2 separate regions of the Homo sapiens genome follow, and region 2 is linked to region 1. The links come from fine-mapping of genetic effects on gene expression. A gene starts in region 1. The other region holds a variant in brackets. All regions are shown on one strand. Distances are from middle to middle. Region 1 holds the start of NEFL (neurofilament light chain). Region 2 holds the start of LOC112268023 (a long non-coding RNA gene).

The links. PIP is the estimated chance that this variant, and not a neighbour inherited with it, causes the effect.
Region 2: its variant is the best candidate, but not a certain one, in a credible set for the expression of NEFL in esophagus mucosa (GTEx, PIP 0.63).

The regions. Positions count from the first base shown.
Region 1 is chr8:24,953,194-24,961,525 of GRCh38, forward strand. NEFL (neurofilament light chain) reads right to left here and starts at 3,419. Exons shown (of 4, transcript NM_006158.5): 1 at 2,279-3,419; 2 at 988-1,112; 3 at 283-602. The coding sequence starts at 3,322. It overlaps MIR6841 (microRNA 6841), which reads right to left and starts at 674; the gene lies at 603-674. RefSeq lists an enhancer at 970-2,169.
Region 2 is chr8:24,923,023-24,931,354 of GRCh38, forward strand. It overlaps LOC112268023 (a long non-coding RNA gene), which reads right to left and starts at 1,688. Exons shown (of 3, transcript XR_002956698.2): 1 at 1,568-1,688. The variant T/G (reference allele first, on the strand shown) is at 3,324.

The sequences.
Region 1 (8,332 bases):
AACCTCAATATTTCTTTCATTATGTGTCTGGTATCTATTTTTGTTCTTTAGGACACCAACCTGCTGTGTTAAATGATTATATTAAAAAATGAAAATTTTGACCAATCACCTCATTCAGAGTAGATGCCTTAGGAAAGTTTTGCTAAACAAACAGAAAATTTATTTATGATTCTAATGTCATATATGAATAAATGAGCAAGGCTTCATTTGTCTTATCCACCTCCTAACAAATCTCCACACCCAGTTTACACTTGAAGTTGCAGGGGTTTTTTCTTATCATACCTTCTTCCTCTTCAGCTGCCTCCTCTTCCTCGGCCTCTTCCTTGTCCTTCTCCTCCTCCTCGGCTTCTCCTTCAGAGGGGGGCTCATCCTTGGCTTCCTCAGCCTTGGCAGCCTCAATGGTTTCCTCCACTTCGATCTGCTCCTCTTGGACATGGCTGGTGTAGTAGGACGGGAAGGAGCGGGTGGACATCAGATAGGAGCTGGTCTGTAAACCGCCGTAGGCAGATCGGCCAAAGACCTGGGAGCTCTGGGAGTAGCCACTGGTTATGCTTCCCACGCTGGTGAAACTGAGTCGGGTCTCCTCGCCTTCCAAGAGTTTCCTGGGGATGCAGATGCAAGGTGAGGTTAAAAAACACCTGTGTTTCACAACTTGCTCTGAGTACCCTAAACACAAAGGCAAGCAGGAGCAGGGCTGGGATTTATCAATACTTAATGCCTGGGGATCTTTTGATGGAGACCAGAAAAAATATAAATAAATCATCCTATTAGATTTAAAGTGTAATGACAAGATAAAAACAGGACTCCTAATTACAGGGTTAAATTCTTATATATCTAAATACCCTCTTCTTGGAAGAAGCCAAAAACTAACACTTCATTATTTCAAAAGGACTATTATTGAAGGTTTCTGATCCAACATAACTTTAAATGGGATCTGATTTTCTTCCTAAGGTTTAATGGCTGCTGTCTTTGCCCCTCTATTTTCACCTGTAAGCTGCAATCTCAATATCCAAAGCCATCTTCACGTTGAGGAGGTCTTGGTATTCTTTTAGGTATCGTGCCATTTCACTCTTTGTGGTCCTCAATTCATTTTCTAATTTGTTGATCGTGTCCTGTTTGAAGACAAAAATAAAACAAAAAAAAAATCCGAGCATAAATCCCTTCTATTATTTTACTGTAGTGTAGTTGCAAAGGCCTAGTTTCGATTAAAATCAAGGTGCACACCTTTGATAAAATCTCTCCTAGAATAACTTCCTGTATCTTTTGAAAAACCTTCATGCCTAAAATACCCAAGTTCATGAAGCCTGAGATGAAAAAAAAGATGGACGAAAATTCTGTTCTTCTGTTTCTTTACTTAATACTGTTTAATGATCATCATAAAATGCATGCAAACAGACTAAGTTGATAGAAAAACTGTGTCTCTCATTCACTGATTAACTCTTCTTTAGCTGGGTTACATGCCAGGAAACTAATGCCTTTCTTTATGAGAAGAAAATAGCCAGATGTAAACAAAAAAAAGAAAAAAATTATTTTCTATGAAATATTTCCTATGTATCTAAATTATTTTTTCTACTCCCCAGAAGAAGAAAAAAATTTCTACTCCCCAGAAGATGGAGATGTTTTAAAATGGAGATCTTTTTAAAATTGTATTTTTTCTACTCCCCAGAAGATGGAGATGTTTAAACAGAAATGTTGTAGAAGATTTTACACATAAAGAAAAAAAGAAAAAAAAAAGGTAAAAGGAAATGGTTTACTATGAACATCACTAGTTAACTACCTAAAACAATGTTGACTATTTTCCTGTCTACCTACTAAATAAAGGAAGGGAGTGGTTGGTAAAACTAGTCATAAAGCATGCTGGTCACAGTAATCCTTCAGAATTAATTGAGAGTTGTTCACTCTACTATTTATTAACTAGATGATCCGATAGTTGCTGCAAAGTAACTTGTGGTTAATGCAGGTCAGTAGAGAGCTGATCTCACTGCAGGCCGGAGGCAACGCCCAATTCCCACGTCTTCCCCTCCCCCACCCAACAAGGGCTGGGCAGCTTTAATGCGGAACGCCGGTGCAGCAGCACGGAGCACACTCCCAGACTACAGTGGCGCCCGCACTCACGCCCTTCAAGTGCCCCACCCCTCCCACACAGTGGCCAAGGAGCCAAGCCCTATCCCTAAGAGCTGCGTGCAGCCGCACCACCCCTGGTCTCCACTTTCTGGGCGCACCAACTCCCCCCCTTGCTCGAGTCCCCCGCCCCCCTGTGTTTCTGGCCGTGCCGCACCTGCATAGCGCTGATGTCGGCGTTCTGCTTGTCCTCCAGCTCCTGCAGCTGCTTCTCCAGCGCTTCATTCATGCCCCGGCATGCTTCGATTTCCAGGGTCTTGGCCTTGAGCAGACGACGGCTCTCGGACACCTCGTCCTTGGCGGCGCGCACGGCGTCGGTGTTCTTGGCGGCGCTCTCGGTCAGCACGGTGAAGCGGCTCTTGAACCATTCCTCAGCGTTCTGCATGTTCTTGGCGGCCAGCTTCTCGTACTGCGCGCGGATGTCCTTGAGCGCGGCGGAAAGGTCGGGCTTGGTCACGTCCATCTCCACGGAGATCTGCGCGTACTGGATCTGCGCCTGCAGTTCGGCGATCTCCTCTTCGTGCACTTTCTTCAGAAAAGAGATTTCGTCCATCAAGCTGTCGATGCGCTTCTCGAGCTCGGCGCGAGCGAGCGCCGCCTCGTCGGCGCCTTTGCGCGCTTCCATCAGCCGGCCCTCGGCGTCCTCGCGGCTCAGCACCTCCTCTTCATAGCGCGCCTGCAGGTTGCGCAGGGTCTCCTCCAGCCCTTCGCGCTCGCCCTGGAGCGCCTGCTTCTCGTTGGTGGCATCTTCCGCCGCCAGGCGCAGGTCGCGGATCTCCTGCTCGTACAGCGCCCGGAAGCGGGATGGCTCGGAGTGCTTCTGGCGCAGCACCAGCAGCTCGGCTTCCAGGACCTTGTTCTGCTGCTCCAGCTCGTGCACGCGCTCGATGAAGCTGGCGAAGCGGTCATTGAGGTCCTGGAGCTGCGCCTTCTCCTGCGTGCGGATGGACTTGAGGTCGTTGCTGATGGCGGCTACCTGGCTCAGGTCGAGGTTCTCCAGACTGGGCATCAACGATCCAGAGCTGGAGGAGTAGCTGCGGCGCACGGACAGCGAGGAAGACACCGGCGCCGAGTAGCTGGAGTAAGCTGAGCGTGCGGTGCTGTAGCCGCTGCGCACGCTGGAGATGTGCACCCGGGGCGTCTCCACGTAGCGCCGCTTGTAGGAGGTCGAGTAGTACGGCTCGTAGCTGAAGGAACTCATGGTGGCGGCCGGTGGCTCCCCGGCCCGCGGCGGCGGTGGGAGCCCGGAGAGAGAGGACAGGGGAGAGAGGGAAGGGGGAGGATGGATGGCTGTGTGCGGCTCGGCGCCGTTCTGCCACCCCTATTTATACGCCGGGAGGCTCCTGACGCAGCCTGCGATCGATCACGGCACGCCGGCCAGTGGGGGCAGCGCGCTGCTGCAGCCAAGGCGAGGATTCTGCGCAAAAGGGAAGGCGGGGTCGAGCTACGGCCCGAGGAGCTGCGGCGGTCGTCCTTTCCACTTTGCTCAGAGGGCCCTGATTTTCTCTGAGATCCCATGCCCCCTCACTCATTTCCCTTCTGTACTCACTCACGCAGCCCCTCCCGTCCTGCATTGCCCAGACCCCGTGACACTTGGATCCTTAAGTTGCCCCCAAAACAGGTTCTTGCTCCCTTTTGACACCCTAGTTTTCTGTATCCCGTCACCTCGCAGACACCCTGTCCCCCCAACTCGCCCTTTTCCCACCAGGAACCTCCTTAATTTTTTCCCTTGGTGTTTACGGTGATGGTGCGGCTAGGGAATTTTAGATACAAATAAATAGGCTAGGTTATGTGTATGCAGTATGTATGGAGAAGAGTTTTAATTTCTTTCTAGCTTTCTGGCACTTTCTGCAATTCATCTTCCTTTCTCCTGATTATTTTTCTTTTTCTTTAATGAGCTGCTTAACACATAGGGAATGTGCGCGCGAGTGCGCGCGCGCGCGCGCACACACACACACACACACACACACACTCGTGAAACTGCGGCACTACTGCAGGTATTGGTTTAGCATTTTTAAACCTTTACAGCAGTTAATCCGCCTGTTAGTGTTTCTAGATTTTCACATTTCTTAACTGAGAATGAAGCCGCAGATGGCTTTAACGTGTTGCAGTGTGTGGGTGGTGGAGGGCAGAGAAAGAGTTGGAAACACAGAGACTGACTTGCTGAGGCAGCCGCGCGCTCCGCAGCCGGGAGCTTCAAGCTGCCTGGATCCTCACCAAGCTAAATTCCTGCTTGCTACCACCAACCGCAGCACATTTAAAGTCCGCTTTCCTCTTTTTACACATGTGTAGCACACGACCTGATGATTTCGATAAGCCTTGCAGTTGGCTGATTTTCAGGGAAGCCGCTGCGGCCAGCCCTGAGCGCTGGGTGTGGTCTCTGGGGAGGAGAACTCGGCACCCAGGCTTCTTCAGGAACGGATAGAAAATAGCCATAGCCGCGTGACTCTTCCCCCGATACAATGTAATAACCCGAAAACAGATGCAGTCAGGAATGCATGGATTTCCTTCAGGAAGCACCCAGATGCTTGAAACTGGCGCACGCGGTAGCGCACGTGGATACAACCCTACGGTTTGCAGGGCATTTTCACACGCATGATGTTAGGAGTCCCCCAGGTTTCATGGAGGGATTGCAGAGATTTACACGAAACACCTAAGATTTATCTGAGCAAGCATTTAGTTTTTGTTTTATTTGTATATCGCAGCATTTGATGTGCAACTTATGTTTTTTTTAAGAGGCAAACTGAGGGGGAATATGGTAACTGTTTTCAAATAGAGAAGCCGGAATGGCTTCCCCTGTGATACTTGGAGGGTGAAGTATTTGCAGTGGTGCAGTTGCTTCTGGAGACATTTCACTCCTCTCCCGAGGAAAGGATGGGGTGAGGCTTATCCTCAGAGGCCCTTTCTCATCCCCCCCCCCAAAAAAAATACCTGTGATTGTGATAGCCCACCGTCCTCATGATAGACTGCAGCAGATAACTTTCCTCGGGTTTCTAAACAATGTCTGTTGTCGCAAATAATGCAAATTCACAAATATTGAAATTAGTAGTTTAAATCTATCAAGACTAAGTGATCTCAGAGGACCATCCATGCCCAAATATTCTAGATTTCAAGCCTAAGGTCATGAGGCTGTCCTGAATATTGTTTGTCCCTGGCAGGTTTGGTAGGGTACTTACTCTGTTGACTTTTCATAGCCTAGCTATCCTTGGTCTTTTCACTCATGAAATTCAAGGGTGGAATAGGCTTCTCTGGAGGCGGAGGGTGGAACAAGGACCCAGATAAGCCATAGAGTTGTCTCCTCCCAATTACCCATATGTAGATGAAGCATGGCAGAATGGATTATTTTGTTAACCTGCTCCCTGCAAACCTCATTGTTCCACACTCAGTGTGTGTGAGTCTGCATAAAACACACTCTCAGGTATTTATGAATTCGTTTCCTTTGTGCCAGCTGTCTTTCCCCGGAGTTTCAGGTCACCCTCAGATCTTAAGTCCATCAGCGTTTTTTTTCTTTCTTTCTTTCTTTTTTTTTTTTTTTTTTTTTCTTTTTTTCCGCGGCTCCTCCCTGAAGCCTTTGACTGCAGAGGAGGCTGCCCAGAAAGGAGAGGGGCGGCGGGTGCTGCAGAGGGATGCTTCAGAGAGAAGAAACCATTGGGGCACCTGCTGCCTGCCGTCCCCTGGGTAGCTGGAAAAAAGAGGAACACAGGAGCAAAGGGTGAGAATGGGACCCTTTCCTGTGCTGAACCCGGCCCACAGAGTGGGGGAAGGGGCAGATCCACAGCGTTTAGGCTTATCGATCTCTGGTCTTTTTAAATATCTCCTGGCCTGGCCACCTCATACTCCACGACAGCCTTGCTTTGCAGGACTCCCGAATCCAGCCGGGGTCTGAGTTTTGGTTACTCTATCTTCAGCCTTCCTCTGCCAGGTGCCTGCCTCTTCTTTAATATTCTGTCCAGTCATCCTCCTTTTTGAATCCTCTTTCCAGCATTTTGCTCTAAAAGCACACATGGCATTGCTTTGTGTGGCAAAGCAAAGTGAACAACTTTAGAAAACCTATTTAGGTAGAATATATATATTGACTTTTTCTTTCCCTCACCATAAATGTTTCTGATTAGTGCTGTTTGTAGTAGAGTCGCAGTCTCTTTAGAAGGAGGCTTTTGAGTCTTGTCACACCCTTATGCATTTATTCCCCTTTAAACATATTCTCTGCAAACCTGAACTTGGTTGAGGGCTATCAACAAAACATGCTCCTGGGAGATTAAAAATATGGAAGTATGTTGATGACCCCTTTAACAGAATTCCTACCACTCTGGTTATCCCTAATACTTCTGTAACCCTCCAAAGAACTGTCCCAGGTCATTTAGTTAAAAAGCAAATATCTTCACAGTAATAATAATAAAAAAAACATAAGGCATAACTCTTAGAACCACTGAAAACATTCTACTTCTCCAGTGCCAGCAGAGCCTGAAAGTTTCAGATAGATGGGACCTGGCGACTGATGACTTTTCATTTTATTATTCTAAAGCCATCTGAGAAAGCAGGAAGTTCTGTATTGGCATGTGTTTTTGAAAAGGTCAGCTTTAGGGTAGGGCCCATGAAAAGCCTCAGTCCAAGAGTCAAAAAAGTCAAGTTCTCCTACCACCAATAAGCTCTGGCAGAAGTCCTAGGACAGAACAGCGGATGAGTCGGCCGGGCGCAGTGGCTCATGCCTGTAATCCCAGCACTTGGGGAGGTCGAGGCGGGTAGATCACAAGGTCAGGAGTTCGAGACCAGCCTGGCCAATATGGTGAAAACCCGTCTCTACTAAAAATACAAAAAAATTAGCCAGGTGTGGTGGCACATGCCTTCAATCCCAGCTACTCAGGAGACTGAGGCAGGAGAACTGCTTGAATCTGGGAGGCGGGGTTGCAGTGAGCTGAGATCGCGCCACTGCACTCCAGCCTGGGTGACAGAGTGAGACTGCATCTCAAAAAAAAAAAAAGAAGAAAGAAAAGAAAAAGAACAGCCGATCAGCAGATGAGTCTCCATCCATCTCACCACCAGGTAGATACATCAGTGTCACCAAAGCTGGCATCGGTACGTGGATGCAAGGAAACCCAGTAAATAAATGCATGCAAGATACCTGCTATATGACAGGCATTTGCTATCTTGTATTGAATAATGACAAGATCACCTGGAGATGGTCACTATTATTCAGAGCAAACAGCTGAGGCCCAGAGAAGTAAGTAATTTGCCAACTCACACAGCTCCTTCAAACCTAAGCTCCACCTGCTTCCAGACTGAGGGTTCTACTCATTCCACAAACTGCAGCCATTGGCATTTACTGCTTCCTTATGTCTCTGTGGAATTTGATAAGCGAAGTCTGCCATCTGCAGAGTTTAGCGTGCATATAATAAACCTATCCTGCTTTGGGGACACCAATTTGAATTCTTCTGCACCATGAGGAAACCATTAACGAGCATGCTCCATTTGGGCAGCTAGTGGCAGCAAAAAACTACATGATTGTTGTAGGTTTCTCAAATATCCCAATGTAAAATAAAATGGGTGTGGCCAGTGGAACATGACACATAACTGGCACTGTAACATTTTACATGCAACTCTAAACATCAATTTACAAAACACCCTTTCAGGAATTAATAAGCTAAAATGCAAATTAGCTGACCTAACTCTTTAAAATGGCCACATCACGACTTCCACTTTTTTTTTTTTTCTGATTACAGTATCTTCATTTTCCACCCTTGTAAATGGGTTTTCTTTGGAAACGTGCCCTTAAAAGTTGCTCTAAGGAATAAAAGAAAAAAATGCTGGCACTGAACACCTCATTATTGGAGTTTATAATGCTTTCTGCAAGTCTTTAACTTTCTCCAAAGCAGCATGAATAAAGTCAACAGAAATGTATAGCTTGTTGAAATCACAAAGATCTTTCATCTCTGTTTCTTGTAGCCAGTTTATTTCTTTGTATATTTTGCTCACGACAGGAATCATACGTGAGTCTCCTTCATCTCTTGGGAAATATGTTTGTTTGAAAGAAAACTTTTCCCATTTTATTATCAAGTATGTCTATTTTACAGCACCATATTTTGAAGCGATGCATCATAAAGTGTGCTATGTGGCTATATAAAATTTAGATTGCAGCAGGAACGAGAATGTCATTTGAATAGATTAAGGATGGAAAGCACATTTATATTCAGAACACGTGCAGTATGAGAAATGA
Region 2 (8,332 bases), 30 kb before region 1:
TGCATTTTTCATTGCATTAATCTATATAGGCTGCTTAGACACCCAAGAATCCATCTACATAATCATGGGGCTTAAAAGTTTCTTGACCAGGCGTGGTGGCTCACACTTGTAATCCCAGCACTTTGGGAGGCTGAGGTGGGCGGATCACCTGAAGTCAGGAGTTTGAGACCAGCCTGGCCATTATGGTGAAACCCCGTCTCTACTAAAAATACAAAAATTAGCCCGGCATAGAGGCAGGCACCTGTAATTCCAGCTACGTGGGAGGCTGCGGCTGGAGAATTGCTTGAACCTGGGAGGCAGAGGTTGCAGTGAGCTGAGATCGTGCCACTCCACTCCAGCCTGGGCGACAGAGTAAGACTCCGCGTCAAAAAAAAAAAAAAGTTTATTGATGGAAATTATTTAAAACCATATTAAGAGTAAGAGAGAGAAATATTTTTGTGCTAGGCCTCTGAAGACATGAAATTCCCAGATCCATGCTAACTGTGTTCAACACCATAATGCAGGGCTTTCAGGATTCTCTTTGACTTATTTGAGGTATTTTGAAAAGTTACCACATCATATCTTCAATAAGGTATTCATTTTAGGTAATGCTCCTTAAATCATTCCCTAACTCTAATTAGCGTTCTTATCTTAGAAGAGAACAGAGTTGAAAAAAAATTAACAGCCGACTACATAAAAAGGCTTTTTTTTAAGCTTATGAAAAGCATAATCATTCTAAAGGGCTAAGTAGGAAGGACCACTTACATAGGCCCATGCTATAGTCTTGTTTTGTATGTGGGTGGGTGAGGTGGGTAGTGGGAGGAGAACAGAAAATCAAGGGCCCCAGAATTCGAGTGACAACATTGTGTCCAGAAGGCAAACACCGGGAATTTTTGATTCTGCATTGAGATCACAAGATCACAAGTCAGGGGCCAACTTCAAGTATCATAGGTTCTACTTTTGGTGTTCTCACATTCCTAAGAGAGTAAACCCTGACAACAAAAAGAGATAAGGACTGAAAAGGGCTCCTTTTCCTATTGGTTCTCAAATTTCAAATAAATTTCGGTGAGGAGGGTAAAATTACTGGTTTGCATTAGTGCTTTGGAATATGCTTAATTGTAATTGCTCATCATCTCTTCTGGAAAATCACAGATTAGTTGAAACCACGGAGTATAGCACAAAGAGCCTTCTTTGCCCTGGGATCTAGAAGGTTGGGCCCTCTATACAAGTGACAACACCTCCACACCTCCCATTTTAACTTGGAAAATTCAAGTGTATGTTGAATTCTGTGATGATGCGTTTATATCTTCCTCGATTCATATGTCAAAAACTTACTCTTATCCAAAAACAGTAATTCAGCTTAAGGAGAATTTGCACTTAAAATACTGTGTGCTAACATTTGGAAGAACAAAAAGTTAAAAGTTATTAACTTTTGGGCGGGAAACAGTGGCTCAGCACATTGGGAGTGTGAGGTGGGAGGAGATCGCATGAGCCCAGCAGTTGGAGACCAGCCTGGACAACACTGGGAGACCTGCTCTTTACAAAAAATAAAAAGAAAAATAAATTAGCCAGACATGGTGCCGTGTACCTGTATTCCAGCTACTCAGGAGACTGAGGTGGGAGAACTGCTTGAGCCTGGGAGGTCGAGGCTGCAGTGAAGCATGATTGTGCCACTGTGCTCCAGCCTGGGTGACAGAGCAAGACCCTGTCTCAAAAAAAAAAAAAAAATTTACTTTTATCTATGTAAGTATATAATGTATGAATATCAGCAAGAGAAATAGAAAACTGACCTCCCTCTTCCCCAGATTTCTTTCTAACTATGGCTGCCTAGTTACTTCTGAACTGGACTTCTCAGTGGCCCCAAATAAAATTACAAATATAAGACACAGAATAACAATGTCTGACAAATAGTAGGCACTTAATTAGTGGTAAATTTTCATTGCCGTCATTAATATTCGTTTTAAAAGTAATAACTGGCCAGGCGTGGTGGCTCACACCTGTAATCCCAGCACTTTGGGAAGCCGAGGCAGGCGGATCATGAGGTCAGGAGATCGAGACCATCCTGGCTAACACGGTGAAACCCCGATTCTACTAAAAAATACAAAAAAGTAGCCAGGCATGGTGGTGGGCACCTGTAGTCCCAGCTACTTGGGAGGCTGAGGCAGGAGAATGGCATGAACCTGGGAGGCAGAGCTTGCAGTGAGCTGAGATCGCACCACTGCACTCCAGCCTGGGCAACAGAGTGAGACTCCATCTCAAAATAAATAAATAAATAAAAATAAACAAATAAATACAAGTAATAACTAAAATAGCCATGTATATTAATTACCATGTCAATAAGAGATACACACAAAAATTAAACCTGTAGCAAAGCTTCAAGAAGTAGAAGAGTAGATACCTTCGCACTAAACTTTACTTACTATATATATGCTACTCAGAATCATAAAACCCTAAAGGTTGAATTAGCTGATAATATTTAACCCACATTTCTTATGCCTAAAAAGCAGCTGCCTAACCTATAATTGAATATCTACAGTGACAGGGAAGTTACTTTGCTGCAAGCCATCCCAACAGATAACTTGGACTGTTTGCAGTCCAACTTCTTTACATTGTTCTAATCTCTGATCCCCTGTAACGTTCACCCACTGATGCAAATTCCAGGGAGTCATATAAATCCTACTTCCCTTTTCCCCAGAATGGACTTTCAGAGAGATGAAGGTAGCATAGTGTGGATATTTGTCCCTTCCAAATCTCATGATAGGAGGTGTTTGGGTCATGGGGGCGGAACCTTCATGAATAACTTGGTGCTGTCCTTGCCACAGTGAGTGAGTTCTCATGAGATCTGGTTGTTTAAAAATGTGTGGCATCTCCCACCTCACTCTCTTGCTCGAGAACTCTCACGTAATATATTGGCTCCCCGTTGCCTTCTGCCATGATTGTAAGCTTCCTGAAACCTCAGCAGAAGCAGATGCCAGCACAAATGCTGCTTATACAGCCTGCAGAACTGTTAGCCAATTAAACCATTTTTCTTCATAAATTACCCAGCCTCGGATATTCCTTTAGAGTAACGCAAATGGACTAAAACAGATGGCCATGTCCAAATCCAAGCAGCTCATAGCAGTAGTGACCATTGTTGAGTTTACTACCTACCAGGTACTCTTCTAAGCACATCACCTGTAATTAATCCATGATTTCTCATAACAAACATACATGCAGGTATTATTTTTAACACCATTTTTTTGCAGAAGTTTGGGCATAATAAACCCAGGCTTTTTTTATATCAAACCCATGACTTTTCTACTTTATACTTTAATAGACAAAACAGCAAACATATGTAACTACAC[T/G]TGTTCACCCTTGGAATGAACCTTCTACCTGTTGAGCCGAGCCAGTCTCAAGTAGTCCCCATTCTCCAGTTTTTCATTTATGTCAAAATTAACTGATCTGGGGAAGTGTTACTTTAAAACTCATTGCTATATAGATGGCAGGAATTTTAAACTCAACAATGAGTTACCCTAGGTTACAGTCTAGGTTTCACTAATCTGTGCCTGGATATATAACACTATTTTGTGGTATCTTCTTTACAAAATAAAATAAATTAAAATTCTGATTGGCGCATGAGCTATTTCATGTCTCTATTTTTCCATTTCTCAGATTCTTAAGTAGACAATGCCCTAACAAATAAGTTTTTCTTCTAGTAGTTATTCACCCATAACACATAACCAGTTTCATGGGGAGCAGCAACATGTATCTGCCTATCGCCTTTGATTGACACTTTGTTCTTCAGCGATAGCAACGAAGGAAGTATTTAGGCTGGATTAAAGTGATTAAGCATCAAGAGAAATTATTTCTATGCATCAGCAATTAGACAGGTTTGGACAGTTCTAATAAAGAATGCCTTGAATGTCACATGTTAGAAATTTGGACAAATTTGTATGGCACTTTCACATCCTACGCACTGTCATCTGTTACTATCATAGTTTGAGATTAAATTTCCTTTGCTGGGCATTGTTGATTATGAAGCTTAATAATCACCATGTTCCTGGGAAAGCAGTTGACCATGTCCACCCACTGAGTTCATTCCCTTGGCATATTCGAATGAATATTACCATTAGAAGGAAATCGTGTGTCCATGACATTTGCAGAGCTAATGCCGATCTCCATTCTTCATCAGCCACCCATTAAATATGCCATAAATGATTCTAAAGTAACACTTTCTCATTGGCAATTAGCAAACTGCTTTGCCAATTCTTTGTCAGGAATTTGCTTACAGGATTTGCTCAAGAAAACACATGAATTTCAAAATCACCATCGAGACATATGAAAAAGTAAGGCCAAGGAAGGAAAAGTGAATGAAGTCACCCAAAGTATATGCTTCCTCCTCAACTTTGGTGGACAGAAGTGTTAGGGGAAAAGGAGCACATGAGAGCCAGGGTGCCATCATTTGAAAATCAACTCCATCTTAAAACTAGCAAGGCACATTCCTCACCAGTCACAACCCATGGTCATAAGATGTTTATGGCTAAGGAAGCAGCTTAGTCATGACAGCAAGGACAAACTTCTGTGACAGCAGAATGTCCAGATGTACCAATACTGATGGCAGCAGTGAGCCATCTGCCATCACACTGGCCACTACAGGGAGGGCGCAGGAGGAGGCAGACAGCACCCTCCCCCCAGCAGCTTCTGCCCTGGGGCCGCTGAGATAGGGCCAGGCCAGGTCACGTGCCTGGTGAGGGGGAGCTTTCCAGGTGCAACTGCAGCCGCCCCAGTCACAGCTGCAGCCCAGGCACCCCTATTCTCTTGGGAGCCAGGAGCACACAGAAACCCCACCCCCCACCCTGCGTAGGTGCAGCCACCCAAACCAAGGCTGCAGACCCAGGCCTCCCTGCACTCTTGCACTTGCAGGCTTGGAAGTGACTGTTCCTGCTGCCTGGCCTCTCCCTGGCACGCGCTTCAATCTCGGACCAGAGTTGGGGCCAAACCCAGGTGCTGTCACAACCTGGCTGTGTATGCACATGCTTGGGGAAGTGTTGACATGCCAGCCTCCTGCCATCTTGGCCCCCTCCAGACTTTGGGTGCTGATCAGCTGAGGAGCATGAGAGGGGAAGCTGAGGGGAGCTGAGGGCAGCTAGGTGCTGCCCTGCAGGTGTCCCTTGGTGCAATAGATGGTTGTGGGAGGCAGACAGGCTCCTGGGTGGAAGTGGGTAGATCCCCAATGAAGCCTCACCTTCAGGCTAGGGCACGCCTGAAGCCTGGAGGCTGGGCTGCCAGTCCTGTAGAAAGGAGGGGGAACTCATGGTGCTTTATCCTAGGCCCACTCGTGGCTGCCCATGGACCAATTAGCATGCACTTCCCCTCTCTGAGGCCTGTAAAAGCCGCAGGCTCAGCCAGAACAGAGCAAAGGACAGGACAACCAGCTGCAAAGAGGAGTTAACCTCCCCAGGACCTCCTCTCTGCTGAGAGCTGCAGACCAAACAGGACCACCTGCCTGCAGAGAGGAACCACCCACTCCAGGGCCTCCCCTCTGCTGAGAGCTGAACACTGAATCAGATGACCAGCCTACAGACAGGAGCTGCCCCCTGTGTGTCTCCTCCGAGCTGTTCTAACACTCAATAAAGCTTCTCTTTGTCTTGCTCACCCTCTACTTGTAAGCATACCTCATTCTTCCTGTACACAAGATAAGAACTCAGGCAAAGGTGCCTCCAGCCACAGAGGTTTCTGGCCAGAAAAGTGATACACTAAAGATCCCATAACTTTAAAGATAAAGTTATGTGATACACTATCACATAACAGTGTGTGCTTTTATGATAGCTATAGTCATGCTTTGATGTACTTACTCACTAAAATGCCAAGTAAAACTTTCTTTAAGTCAACAAAGTAATAAATGTTGTCATGCTCTCAGTCCACCTAAACATAGACATAGCTTACTTTTACATAGATAAGACCCCTACATAAGGAGAGTTTAAAACAAAGATGGCATATTCCTCCTCTTGCTTTCTGAGGATGGCCTACTCTGTTACTGAGCAGCTTCAATAAACTCTGTCTTCTCACTGTACTCAAGGACTTGCCCTTAATTCCTTTCTGCATGAGAGCCAAGAACTCTCTCTTGGGGTCTGGATTGGAATCCCTTTTTCTGGCAACAGATGTGAACAAGATATTGCTTGGGAGAAATGAAAGATTTGTCAAAGAATGAGAATAGTTAACAACATTAAAGACATGTACCTTGCCCACATTAACAGCCTATAACTCCATGTGTTATCAGAAAAGAAAAACATAAATATTCACTGCCAAGCTAATATATATTTCAGGGCTTGGCATGCCATATCATGATACCATTCAAGATACTGTCAAGGAACACCAATGTCCACATTCCATCAGTACAATATCCCTACCCCTCTTGCTGTCCATGACAGCAGGGCCACTAACTGGAATGCTGTCTCTCCACAGAGACCCCCAACCTCCAGCCTGTCATTACAAAGGATGGGTCTAAAATGTCACATTTAGAACCACTGAAAACTTGAAACTTTTTTCCATTTCCATCCCTCTTAGTGTCATTAATCAAACAGAGCCTCTTTCATATTATTTACTTGGCTGTTCCTCAAATCTCTTCAGACAACCAAAACAATCTAGAAAGTACAGTGTAGCTTTTAAGAACACAGATTTTGATGTCCAATTAGATCTTGGTTCAACTTCCAGTTTTAAACTTCCTAGTGGACTTAGCATGTTAGGGGCCAGTCAAGGGGAGGAGAAGGAGGAAGAGGAGGAGGAGGAGGAAGAGGAGGAGGACAAAGAGGAGGAGGAGGAGGAGGTGAAAGAACATTCTAAGAGCTCCAGAGAGAATGGAATGTAATACAAGGAAATATACCACAAGTTAAGGGAAAGGTAAGAAGCAAATTCAACTCTAGTCAGTGTGGGCTGCCATAACAAAATATAGACTTGGTGACTTAAATGACAGAAAGCTCTGGGTGATAGCACAGTCAGTTTCTGGTGAGGGCTCTCTCCCTGGCTTGCAGAGGGCCACCTTCTCATCATGTCCTCACATGACAGAGCAAGAGTGAGCTCTCCAGTGTCTCTTTTTATAAAGACACTAATCCAATCAGATCAGGGTCCTACCCTTAAAGCTCATTTAGCCTTATTTACTTCCTTAAAGGCCCTATATCGAAATACAGTAACATTGGGAGCTTAGGGCTTCAACATATGAATTTGGGGTGGGGGAGAGGGAACAGTTCAGTTCATCACAGGGGATAATGGGGCAACTCAGAAATTAGCAATGGAAAAAAGCCATTATCACCTCTGGGGTTGCAGCACACAAGAAGTAGATGTTGCTACCAGAGACCAGAACCCAGGATCATCCAGAGGGAGCTAGAATTATGGCAGCAGGGGCAGCCTGGTGAGAACTGAGACCATGGAGGGGAGAGGTGTCCAAGGGAAGTCATACTCAAGAACTCAAGCAGGAAAAGGAGACACTACCTCTGCTGGACGTGGGGCCTGAAAGAAAGGTGGGGAGGTGATGGTGGCAGGTATTCTCTGATTTGTCCCTCCTCCCTTTTCTACCCTTTCTCTGGTTCCTCCCATGACCCAGTAGCATATGCAATCTAATCAAGAAGGGAGCCTGAACTATGCAACTCCTGTGATAAAGAGTAGAGCAGGGTCAGTGTGAGAAATTGAGCTGAGAACAAGCATTGAAAGATGACTGGCACACTCACCATGTGACTTTAGGCGACTCATCCTACTTTTCTTCACATCCCTTTTCTCATCTGAAACATGGGGCCAATAAAAGATAATTTGATCACTGTTAAATCAAGTTTAGCCTAAAGCTGCCTCTTGGAATATTTTAAGTTTGGCCTGTGACAAGAAAATAAATCTTGGAGCCCCAAAAATCACTAAGCTAAAGGGAAAAGGCAAGCTGGGGACTGCTTAGGGCAAATCTGCCTCCCATTCTATTCTGCTCACTGAGATAAAAGCATATTTGATTGCCTCCTTTGGAGAGGCTAATCAGAAACTCAAAAGAGGCTGGGCATGGTGGCTCACATCTGTAATCCCAGCACTTTGGGAGGCCGAGGCTGGTGGATCACTTGAGGTCAGGAGTCTGAGACAAGCCTGGCCAGTGTGGTGAAACCCCATCTCTACTAAAAATACCAAAATTAGCCAGATGTGGTGGCACGTGCCTGTAATCCCAACTACTTGGGAGGCTGAGGCATGAGAATCACTTGAACCTGGGAGGCAGAGGTTGCAGTGAGGCAAGATCACACCACTGCACTCCAGTCTGGGCAACAGAGTGAGACTCCATCTCAAAGAAAAAAAAAAGAAGAAGAAGAAAAAGAAACTCAAAAGAATGCAACCATTTGTCTCTTTT